2 separate regions of the Homo sapiens genome follow, and region 1 is linked to region 2. Evidence: fine-mapped expression QTL. A gene starts in region 2. The other region holds a variant in brackets. All regions are shown on one strand. Distances are from middle to middle.

What was found.
Region 1: its variant is fine-mapped to the expression of SPG21 in tibial artery (GTEx, PIP 0.93).

What each region holds. Positions count from the first base shown.
Region 1 is chr15:64,964,157-64,969,682 of GRCh38, reverse strand. SPG21 (SPG21 abhydrolase domain containing, maspardin) reads left to right here. Exons shown (of 9, transcript NM_016630.7): 7 at 321-428; 8 at 4,223-4,363. Among named protein-coding and RNA genes, the nearest start is that of SPG21, 23 kb to the left of the region's middle. The variant C/T (reference allele first, on the strand shown) is at 3,012.
Region 2 is chr15:64,987,778-64,992,777 of GRCh38, reverse strand. SPG21 (SPG21 abhydrolase domain containing, maspardin) reads left to right here and starts at 2,864. Exons shown (of 9, transcript NM_016630.7): 1 at 2,864-3,113. RefSeq lists enhancers at 2,431-2,490, 2,531-2,600, 2,656-3,155, 3,156-3,657 and silencers at 2,671-3,160, 3,281-3,330, 3,133-3,427.

The DNA.
Region 1 (5,526 bases), 23 kb after region 2:
ACATATATCTGTCACCTTTGAGCAGTAGGAATTGGCTTGCTGCCCATGGGCACCTGGCTGGAGTAGGCAGTGTAGGCTGAGGGCTGTAGAAGGCCGGGTTTCATTGGTTTGTACCCAGGTTTCCAGAATAGAAAAATGCCACAACCTCCTGAGAAGCCCAGTTCATGGTCTCTCACCTAAGTTGTGGTTCCTCACTGATGACTTTTCTGGCCCCACCACAGATGATACCACCTTTATAAGCACAAATGTTGTCTGTGGATTTAATGTAAATGTGAAAAACAAAATTATTTCAAAAACTTTACCTGTGTTTCTTCCTGCAGCTAGAAAGTTTGGGTCAGAGTGAACTGGCTTCAAGACTTACCTTGAATTGTCAAAATTCTTATGTGGAACCTCATAAAATTCGGGACATACCTGTAACTATTATGGATGTAAGCTTCCTTTTAAGTAAAATAGCTGCTTTACTTTTTAAAATGTGTATGTCAAGATCTCCTATAAAACTATTTGATAACTTTCAATGTACCTCTTCAAATGCTGCCTTGGCTTTTGTTTTTACCCTCCAGCTTTCTCAATTCCAAAATAATCTGTTTATTGCTTATCTTGGATTTCTTTCTGGCAGGAATAACACCATTGAAATCAAAATAGGCCGAGCACAGTGGCTTATGCCTGTAATCCCAGCGCTTTGGGAGGCTGAGGCAGGAGGATTGCTTGAGTCCAAGAGTTCAGGACCAGCCTGGGCAACATAGTGAGACCCTGTCTGTATTTATTAAAAAAAAATAAAAATAAAAATGAATCAAAATAAATTTAAACAAGGGAGTCTACCCATTTGATGTATTTTTGCTGTTCTCATCAATAGATATTGCACCATATATTGCACATATATGGGCAGCAAAGAGAAGGTGCTTCACAAGGGTAACAAGGGTAGAGAATCAAGAATTCCATAGTTTAATTACCACAAAAGCTTGCTTATTTTTTTATTGTGGTAAAATGTACATTTAAAATATGCCATTTTAACCATTTTTAAGTGCATAGTTCAGTGGCATTAAGTATATTCACAGTTCGGCAACCATCACCATTTTCACAACATTTTCATCATTCCAAGAAGAAATTGCATACCCATTAAACAATAACTCCTGTTCCCTTTCTTCCCCCGGCCTCTGATAATCAACGGTTTTATTTTCTGTCTATAAAAATTTACCTATTCTAGAACCTCATATAAGTAGAATCATACAACATTTATCCTTTTGTGTGGCCATTTCACTTAGCATAATGTTTCACAAGACTTATCTTGAAATGTTATACATGTGTCAGAATGTCATTTCTTTCTTTTTTTTTTTTTTTTTTTGGAAACAGGGTCTCACTCTGTTCCCCAGGCTGGAGTGCAGTGGTGCAATCTCAGCTCACTGCAACCTCTGCCTCCCGGGCCCAAACAATCCTCCCTCCTCAGCCTCCTTAGTAGCTTGGACCACAGGCTCACACCACTACGTTCGGCTAATTTTTTGTAGAGATGGGGTTTCACCATGTTGCCCATGCTGGACTCAAACTCTGGGACTCAAGCTGTCTGCCTGCCTGGGCCTCCCAAAGTGCTATGACAGGCATGAGCCACCACGCCCAGCCTATTTCTTTTTAAAGCTGAATAATATCTACCAATAAAACCAATGTTGGTTTATACCACATTTTGTTTATCCATTCATCCGTCAGTGGTCACTTGGGTTGTGTTCAGCTTTTGGCAATTGTGAATAGTGCTTCTATGAACATTGGTGTAAAAGTATATGTTTGGGCAGGGCACAGTGGCTCATTCCTGCAATCCCAGCACTTTGGGAGGCTGACTCAAGAGGATTGCTTGAGCCCAGGAATTCGAGACCAGTCTGGGCAATACAGGAGACCCTGTCTCTACTACTAATAAAGAAAATTAGGCCGGGCGCGGTGGCTCACCCCTGTAATCCCAGAACTTTGGGAGGCCAAGGCGGGTGGATCATGAGGTCAAGAGATCGAGACCATCCTGGCCAACGTGGTGAAACCCGTCTCTACTGAAAATACAAAAATTAGCCGGGCATGGTGGCACACACCTGTAGTCCCAGCTATTCGGGAGGCTGAGGCAGGAGAATTGCTTGAATCTGGGCGGTGGAGGTTGCAGTGAGCTGAGATCGCACCACTGCATTCCAGCCTGCCAATAGAGTGAGACTTCGTCTCAAAAAAAAGAAAAAAAAAAAAAGGAAAATTAGCTGGACATGGTGCCACATCCCTGTGATCCCAGCTACTTGGGAGGTTGAGGTGGGAGGATCACCTGAGCCTGGGGTGAGCCATGATCATGCCACTGCGTTCCAGCCTGGGCAACAGAGTGAGAACCTGTCAAAAAATATATGTATATTTGTTTGAGTTCCTGCTTTTAATTTTTTTTTATTTATTTTTAAATTATTTTTTAAAAATAATTTTTTGTTTTTTATTTTTATGGGTACATAGTAGATGTATCCTACTTTTAATTCTTTTGGACATATCGTTTGAAGTAGAATCACACTTTTTGAAGTACCACCATACTGTCTTCCACAGTGGCTATACCATTTCATGTTCCCACCAACAATGCACAAAGATTCCAGTTTCTCTATATCCTGGACCCTTATTTCTGGTTTTTTGGTTGATACTTATCCTAATGGATATGAATTGGTATCTCACTATGGTTTCAATTTACTTAAAAAAAAATCATATGATTATTTTGCCTTATAAATGGATTTGTTCCTAAATTCAAATAATATGGTTTTTTGTTTTTGTTTTTGTTTTTGTTTTTTTGAGACAAAGTCTCACTCAGTTGCCTAGGCTGGAGTGCAGTGGCGCGATCTTGGCTCACTGCAAGCTCCGCCTCCTGGGTTGACGCCATTCTCCTGCCTCAGCCTCCCAAGTAGCTGGGACTACAGGCACCCACCACCACGCCCAGCTAATTTTTTGTATTTTTAGTAGAGGCAGGGTTTCACCATGTTAGCCAGGATGGTCTCGATCTCCTGACCTCATGATCTGCC[C/T]GCCTCAGCCTCCCAAAGTGCTGGGATTACAGGTGTGAGCCACCGCACCTGGCCATAATATGGTATTTTTAATAATTGGTTTTTGTTGGGAAATTATTCATTATAAGCGTGTAAACAACTTCTTATCATCCTCTGCCATAATCGCTGCATTCTGACATTTGCCATAACATAGAACAAGCTTTTCAATGGTCCTCACAGGACATTTGCTCTGCCTGCCCTTCTTTCAAAGCTGTGCTCACTGCCTGGGTTCATGGTCACTGAAAACAGCCTGTAAGTTTTAGTTGGAGATGCACTTAAACATACAGATTTGGTATGGTATATTTAGTATACAATTTTTTTTGCTTATTTTACTTTTTGAAAAATTTTGTTGCATGTAAAAACGTAAATGTGTATGGGTATTGAAGGATGTCTAGAATCATATGCTGCAAACTGGTTTCCCCAAGAAAGAATAGCTTGTACTCTACATTTTTTTGGAATTTTTTTCACTGAGCCTAAATGACTTAGTTTATTGCTTTAAATTAATGATAAAAGTAAAAAGTTCTTTTGGGGCTTCGTGATCTTTTTGAAACTTATTGACATTTGCAATGATTGTTCTCTATTAATATTCTGTTAATCTACTTAGCTATATTTGAGGAAAAAGGAAATTCATGGTAGAATTTCCCCCGACCCCAGCCGGGCTTGGTGGCTCACGCCTGTAATCCCAGCACTTTGGGAGGCCGAGGTGGGCAGATCACCTGAGGTCAGGAGTTTGAGACCAGCCTGGCCAACATGGTGAAACCCCATCTCTACTAAAAATGCAAAAATTAGCCAGGCGTGATGGCGCATGCCTGTAGTCCCAGGTACTTAGGAGGCTGAGGCAGGAGAATCACTTGAGCCCAGGAGGTGGAGATTGCAGTGAGCCGAGATCACACCACTGCACTCTACCTCAAAAAAAAAAAAAGAATTTCCCCCCACCAAAAGAATGCAGGAGATGCTGTGCAGCAAAATCTGTAGCTAATGTCTTCGGTTGGAGTTATAAGTCACCAGGGATCAGCAGTGGAGGTAGTTCAGGCTGCTGGGGGTTCAGGATTGTCTTCATATGAAAGGAATACTTAGGGTAACATTTCCATAATGTGAAAAGAACATATTAAAACACTAGTTGATTACAGCTTTCTGTATGTGTGTGTGTGTTTTACCTTTCCTATGGTGCTGAAGCTTTGTGTTTTTTAAAGGTGTTTGATCAGAGTGCGCTTTCAACTGAAGCTAAAGAAGAAATGTACAAGCTGTATCCTAATGCCCGAAGAGCTCATCTGAAAACAGGAGGCAATTTCCCATACCTGTGCAGAAGTGCAGAGGTCAATCTTTATGTACAGGTAAGGCCTAGCTTGAAACCCAGAGCACTCTGAGCCCAACATATGTTTGCAACATAAAGACTTCTTTTAATGGACTAGTTAGGGAATCAGTGAACTACAGAATTCCTTGTAGAAATGAGGCATTGACTTGATAAAAGTGGTTTACATTTATAACTTGTAGGAGAATTTGAACAGGTATATTAGAGATCCCCCAGTGACTCTCTGGCCACCATCCCTTTTCTAAGGACAGCAGGCCTGCATTCACACACTGAGGTTACTATTGGTATGATGTGACCTTGCCCTCTGGACACAGTGAATTCCATCAGAGCAAGACACCAGACCTAAATGGGGTCAATCTGAGTCCTGTGAAGTGACTTCTTGATCTAATTTTAATGCATTAAAAGAAAACCCTACCAGGCGTAGTGGCTCATGCCTGTAATCTCAGCACTTTGCGAGGCTGAGGCAGGCAGATCACAAGGTCAGGAGGTCAAGACCAGCCTGGCCAATATGGTGAAACCGTCTCTACTAAAAATACAAAAAAAATTAGCTGGACGTGGTGGTGCACACCTGTAGTCCCAGCTACTCGGGAGGCTGAGGCAGAAGAATCACTTGAATCCTGGAGGCAGAGGTTGCAGTGAGCCGAGGTCACGCCATTGCACTCCAGCCTGGGCAACAGAACAAGACTCCGTCTCAAAAAAAAAGAAAAGAAAAGAAAGCCCTAACAAACACCATCCCTTCATACTCTAACTAAATGGATAATAGAATAGCAGTGAGGGGTGAGTGCCCTGGCAGTTTGGCAAGATGAATCAAGAGCCTTAAAAAACCAGTTATATCCTGGCCACGCATGGTGGCTCACACCTGTAATCCCAAAAACCAGTCATATCCCTTGATCCTGTCATCCCCTTATAGAAGACAGGATCCTAAACAGGAATACTTGATGCCCAGAGATATTCATCATAGCAGCACTAGTCACAGTAGCAGAAGATTGGAAGGACCTAACTCACAGCAGCAGAAGGGAAGGGTAAACATCTCATGAGCATGCACCATCTAAGATGTCTCAGGAGACTCTGCAGGGACTCAGGGAGACTGCTCAGGGAGTGAGGAACAAAGATCCCAAATGTGGTTTCAAAAAATTGTTTGACTTTTCTCTATTTAGTATGTCTTAGTCTGTAAATTTTAGAAGT
Region 2 (5,000 bases):
ACCCGGCTAATTTTTGTATTTTTAGTAGAGATGGGGGTTTTGCCATGTTGGCCAGGCTGGTCTCGAACTCCTGACCTCAAGTGATCCACCCGCCTTGGCTTCCCTCAGTGCTGGGATTACAGGTATGAGCCACTATGCCTGGCTGCTTTTAATTATTTTGATCACACAGATAATATATGAATACATTTTAATATAAACTCAACTATTAAATCCAAAGTCAAAGTTCTTCACCACTCCCTCCATCCCCAGTTCCTCCTCCGAGGTAATCACTTAGCTGCTTGGTACATACCTCTCCAAACATTTTAAAAAGTGCATTCACAGCTGGGCGCAGTGGCTCACGCCTGTAATCCCAGCACTTTGGGAGGCCGAGGCGGGAGGATCACGAAGTCAAGAGATCGAGACCATCCTGGCCAACATGGTGAAACCCCGTCTCTACTAAAAATACAAAAATTAGCTGGGTGTGGTGGCAGGCACCTGTAGACCCAGCTACTCGGGAGGCTGAGGCAGGAGAATAGCTTGAATCCGGGAGGCGGAGGTTGCAATGAGCTGAGATGTGCCACTGCAATCCAGCCTGGCAACAGAGCAAGACTCCGTCTCAAAAAAAAAAAAAAGTGCATTCACTTATGTATACACATGCATAGGGATATTTCTGGATCTGGGATTATTTTGTGTGTTTTCAAACAAATATTATCCTGTGAAAAGATAAATTAAGAGGGACAGAGCCCGGGTTTGGGTAATTCTGAGAGCCAGCTGGCCATCTGTTTACTTTGCTTGGTGTTCACAGCATATTTTGTGAACATTCCAGTTTTTCTGTGAGATTCTCACAGATGAATTGGTGCTGTGGGAACCATCTGGCAGACCCCAGCCACAACAGCTGCAAATCCTTACAGCCATGTCTACCAGGTCAGCCTGCACTGGGACCTGCCTGAATCAAAAGTTTGCTGCCTGAATTTGTGCATTACAATTCAGCTGGAATTCACAGATATTAAATGTTCTTTGTTGGGATTAGGAAAGGGACAATGTGCTTGCCATGTGTTATGGAACAACTGAGGACACAAACATGACCATGGTTTCCCTTCCTGAAAGAAGTAAAACATTTATTATTTTTGGATTGGTCTACATTGTAATAAAAGTTGATATGTAACAAAACATATCTACATAGTGATTTTTTTTTATTGTCAATTGTCAAAGTTTACTACCACACTAACAGAACAATGACTTTTAACATACGGGTATATCCATAGATTAGGTCTCATTAAAGCTGTTACTAAATGGGGTCTAGGGATGGGGTCTAAGGAATACAGCTTTAGGAACAAATGTGGAAATGGGGATAGATTTATTTATTCCACTCATTAATTCATTCAATATAGTTTTTTGTTGGGAGCAGACAAGGTCTCTCGCTTTGTCACCTAGGATGTGGTGCAGTGGATTCGACATCTGGGCTTAACAGATTCTCCCATCTCAGCCTCCTGAGTAGCGGGGATTACAGGCATGCGCCACCACGCCCGGCTAATTTTTGTATTTTTTTGTACAGACAGGGTCTCCCAGGTTGCCCAGGCTAGTCTCGAACTCCTGGGCTCAATCAAGCGATCCGTCCACCTTGGCCTCCCAAAGTGCTGGGATTACAATCAATATACATTTAGTACCTATTATTTATGGGCTAATCATGTGCTAATGGACTGGTGGAATCACTCTATTCCCTTTGCTCTAGATTGAAGCTTCGAGACCACCTGGGAAAATAGACAACTAATGTAATGAATATCCATAACCAGTTTCAGAGACAACCAGTAGTTTGCAAGTTATTCCACCCATTAAACGATTCCAAATGTTGGAGAAAAGGCCCCCAACTTAAAATACTCCACGGAAACGTGCTCTATACATCTATGTGGTGCTTACAATAAAAGATGAATTCCTGCGACTGAGTTGCAACCCCGAAAGAAATGATTTAGAGAAAAAAAGAAAGAAAGAAAAAGGTAAGTATGTCACCGTGCTTTTGGAAAATGCTTTTGGGATTTGTCCAAGTTCTAGAGTGGAACCCAAGGCTCCTGGGCCAGGGGACAGAAGTGATAACTAAGTAGGATGCAATTTAGTTGGAATCTTCCCTGACCTTAATCCCATAAACAGTTGCCTAGGTAAAGGCAAAGTCTACAGGCCCTAAAACAGGGTACAAGCTTTCCCTAAAACATATTAGAGAGAGGCACTTTCAACAGGACCTTGTTGCAGGATCCCTAAAAAAAAAATTCAAAACAAGGAGATTTACATGTTATTCACCTTATCATAATTTCAGAAATATTTTACTAATAAAAAAGGAGTCGTGAAGTCTGGAACACCTTAAGACGTGACGTCTGCAACACCTTAAGAACAATGATTACAAATGTATTAATATTCTCTCTGATTTTAAGGGAAAAGTGATGAAGGAACAGGAAGATGGGTGGGCGTATGTTCCCAGAAATCCCCAGAACGTCAAAAAGGAAGCGGAGGCTTTGAGTGGAGGACTACGGAGAGCGTCTACGGTTGTGCCAAAGGAAAAAAAATGTTCCTAAGAAAAGAGTATACAAAGTTGTGTTCATCAAAGTCTGGAACCCAAAGGTGTCCCTCCAAAGCTGTACACGACAGAGAAAACGCGAACTGAAAGAAGAAGCAGGTCCCAAGGGGCCAGGCGCCTCCTCCACCTCCTCCTCCTCCTAGGTACGTAGGGCAGAACTAAGGCTGACCCAGACGTAACTCAGCCCTCTCCTCACGCCAGCCGCAGCCAAGCATCCCACGGAGCCTCCCCCCGCGCCCGTCGCCGTGGCGACCGCCGGGGCCACGCAGCACCGCCCCTTCCTCGCGACGTGGCCCCGCCCTCTGAGAACCCGGAAGCGGGAGTCTCGCGCCAGCTGAGCGGCGGTCGGGCGGGGGGAGCGCGGCGGCCCAAGCTCGCTCGGCCACGCGCCCCGCCCCCTCAGAGGCCGGCCTCCCGCACGCACCGCGCAGCCTGCTGTGCCCGTGGGTCCCGAGTGCTCCGCCGCCCGCCCCGACCCGGGCCCAGCCGCCTCCACGGCCCGCGCTCGTACTGGAGCGAAGAGCGGCCTCCTGAAGGAGGGGAAGGGACGTGGGGGCGGCCACGGCAGGTGAGGGTGGGCGAAGCCCTGGGAAGCGGCTGGGTGTGCGGTATGCGGGGTTGTAGGTGTGTGTGTGTGGCGCGTGGCTGCCTTGGTTGGTGTGACTTTGTGAGTGTGTTCTGAGTGGGCCGGTCCATGTGACCACGCACGTGATCACGTGCCCTTGTGAGTGTGTGTCTGGGGCCGAATCTGGGCTGTGGGGTGGTCGGTGTGCTTGTGACCCTGCCTTTGTGTGGCTGTCACCGGTGGGACTGGCGGGGAGCTGTGTGTGAGTCTCCAGCGGGAGGTGGGGGCGGCACAGGGCTTAACCGGGGCATCCTCCTGTAAACCCATCCTGGGGCTACACGACTGCAGCCCAGGAACATTTCTTTCTTTCTTTCTTTCTTTTTTTTTTTCTCAGCAAACTTTTAAGAACTGTGAGCAGAGGCCAGTAATTTTGGAGACAGGACCTCGGCCTGAAAGTGATAGATGTCTTTGTTGTTACTGAGTGTGGGCCAGGTGTAAGGTTTGTAAACGGGGGATGAGGAACAGAGCGGGACCGGAGTGTCTCATTTTTCCTCTTCTCGTTTTCCTGGGGAGTTATAAGTTAGACATTTATGCTGCTTCCTTTGTCTCCACCTACACTGGTTCAGCTCCTTTTGGCACAAAGATTCAACAAATTAAGGAGTAACTTTTTTTTTTTTTTTTTTTTTGAGACGGAGTCTCGCTCCGTCGCCCAGGCTGGAGTGCAGTGGCGCCATCCCAGCTCACTGCAAGCTCTGTCTGCTGGGTTTACGCCATTCTCCTGCCTCAGCCTCCCGAGTAGCTGGCACTACAGGCTCCCGCCACCACGCCCGGCTAATTTTTTGTATTTTTAGTAGAGACGGGGTTTCACCGTGTTAGCCAGGATGGCCTCGATCTCCTGACCTCGTGATCCGCCCGCCTCGGCCTCCCAAAGGGCTGAGATTACAGGCGTGAGCCATCGCGGCTGGCCACTGAGGAGTAACTTAATAGCTGTGTCCAAATTCCAAAAGCTTTTTTCCCAAGAGCATGAGAAGAGATGTCACAGATGTCAGGTAGGCACCTTTTCCTCCTGTAAGGTTTAGAGATAATGCAATGAAGAAAAGAGGGATAGATCTCCCCTGAAGAGATCTAAGAAAAGGATAGCTGTGTACTTCTGTGGTGAGGGATGGAGACGTGCATTAAAAAGCCAGTTGCATCTCCCAGAGACTCTCAGCTTCTAATATTTTGTTATGGCTAGTATTTATAAGCACAGATTTTCCACAATGCACATCAACTATAGATTGAAATAAAGTAGCAGAAACCTCTGACTAATTATGCTGGTTATGTGACTTAAACATTGATAAAGGTGATTTTGTTGACTTTAAAGTGGCAGGTTCTGTTGAAGCCATGAGGGATAGGGGCATAGTCACAACTGGCAGGTTTTTTTGTTTGTTTGTTTGTTTGTTTTTTGAGACAGAGTCTCACTCTGTCGCCCAGGCTGGAGTGCAGTGGTGTGATCTCAGCTCACTGCAACCTCCGCCACCCAGGTTCAAGCAATTCTCCTGCCTCAGCCTCCTAAGTAGCTGGGATTACAGGAGCCCATCACCGCGCCCAGCTAATTTGTTTTTGTTGTTGTTGCTGTTTTGTTTGTTTTTTTGAGATGGAGTTTCGCTCTCGTTGCCCAGGCTGGAGTGCAATGGCGTGATCTCGGCTCACCGCAACCTCTGCCTCCCGGGTTCAAGTGATTCTTCTGCCTCAGCTTCCTGCGTAGCTGGGATTACAGGCATGTGCCACCACGCCTAGCTAATTTTGTATTTTTAGTAGAGACGGGGCTGCACCATGTTGGCCAGGCTGGTCTCGAACTCCTGACCTCAGGTGATCCACCTGCCTCAGCCTCCCAAAGTGCTGGGATTA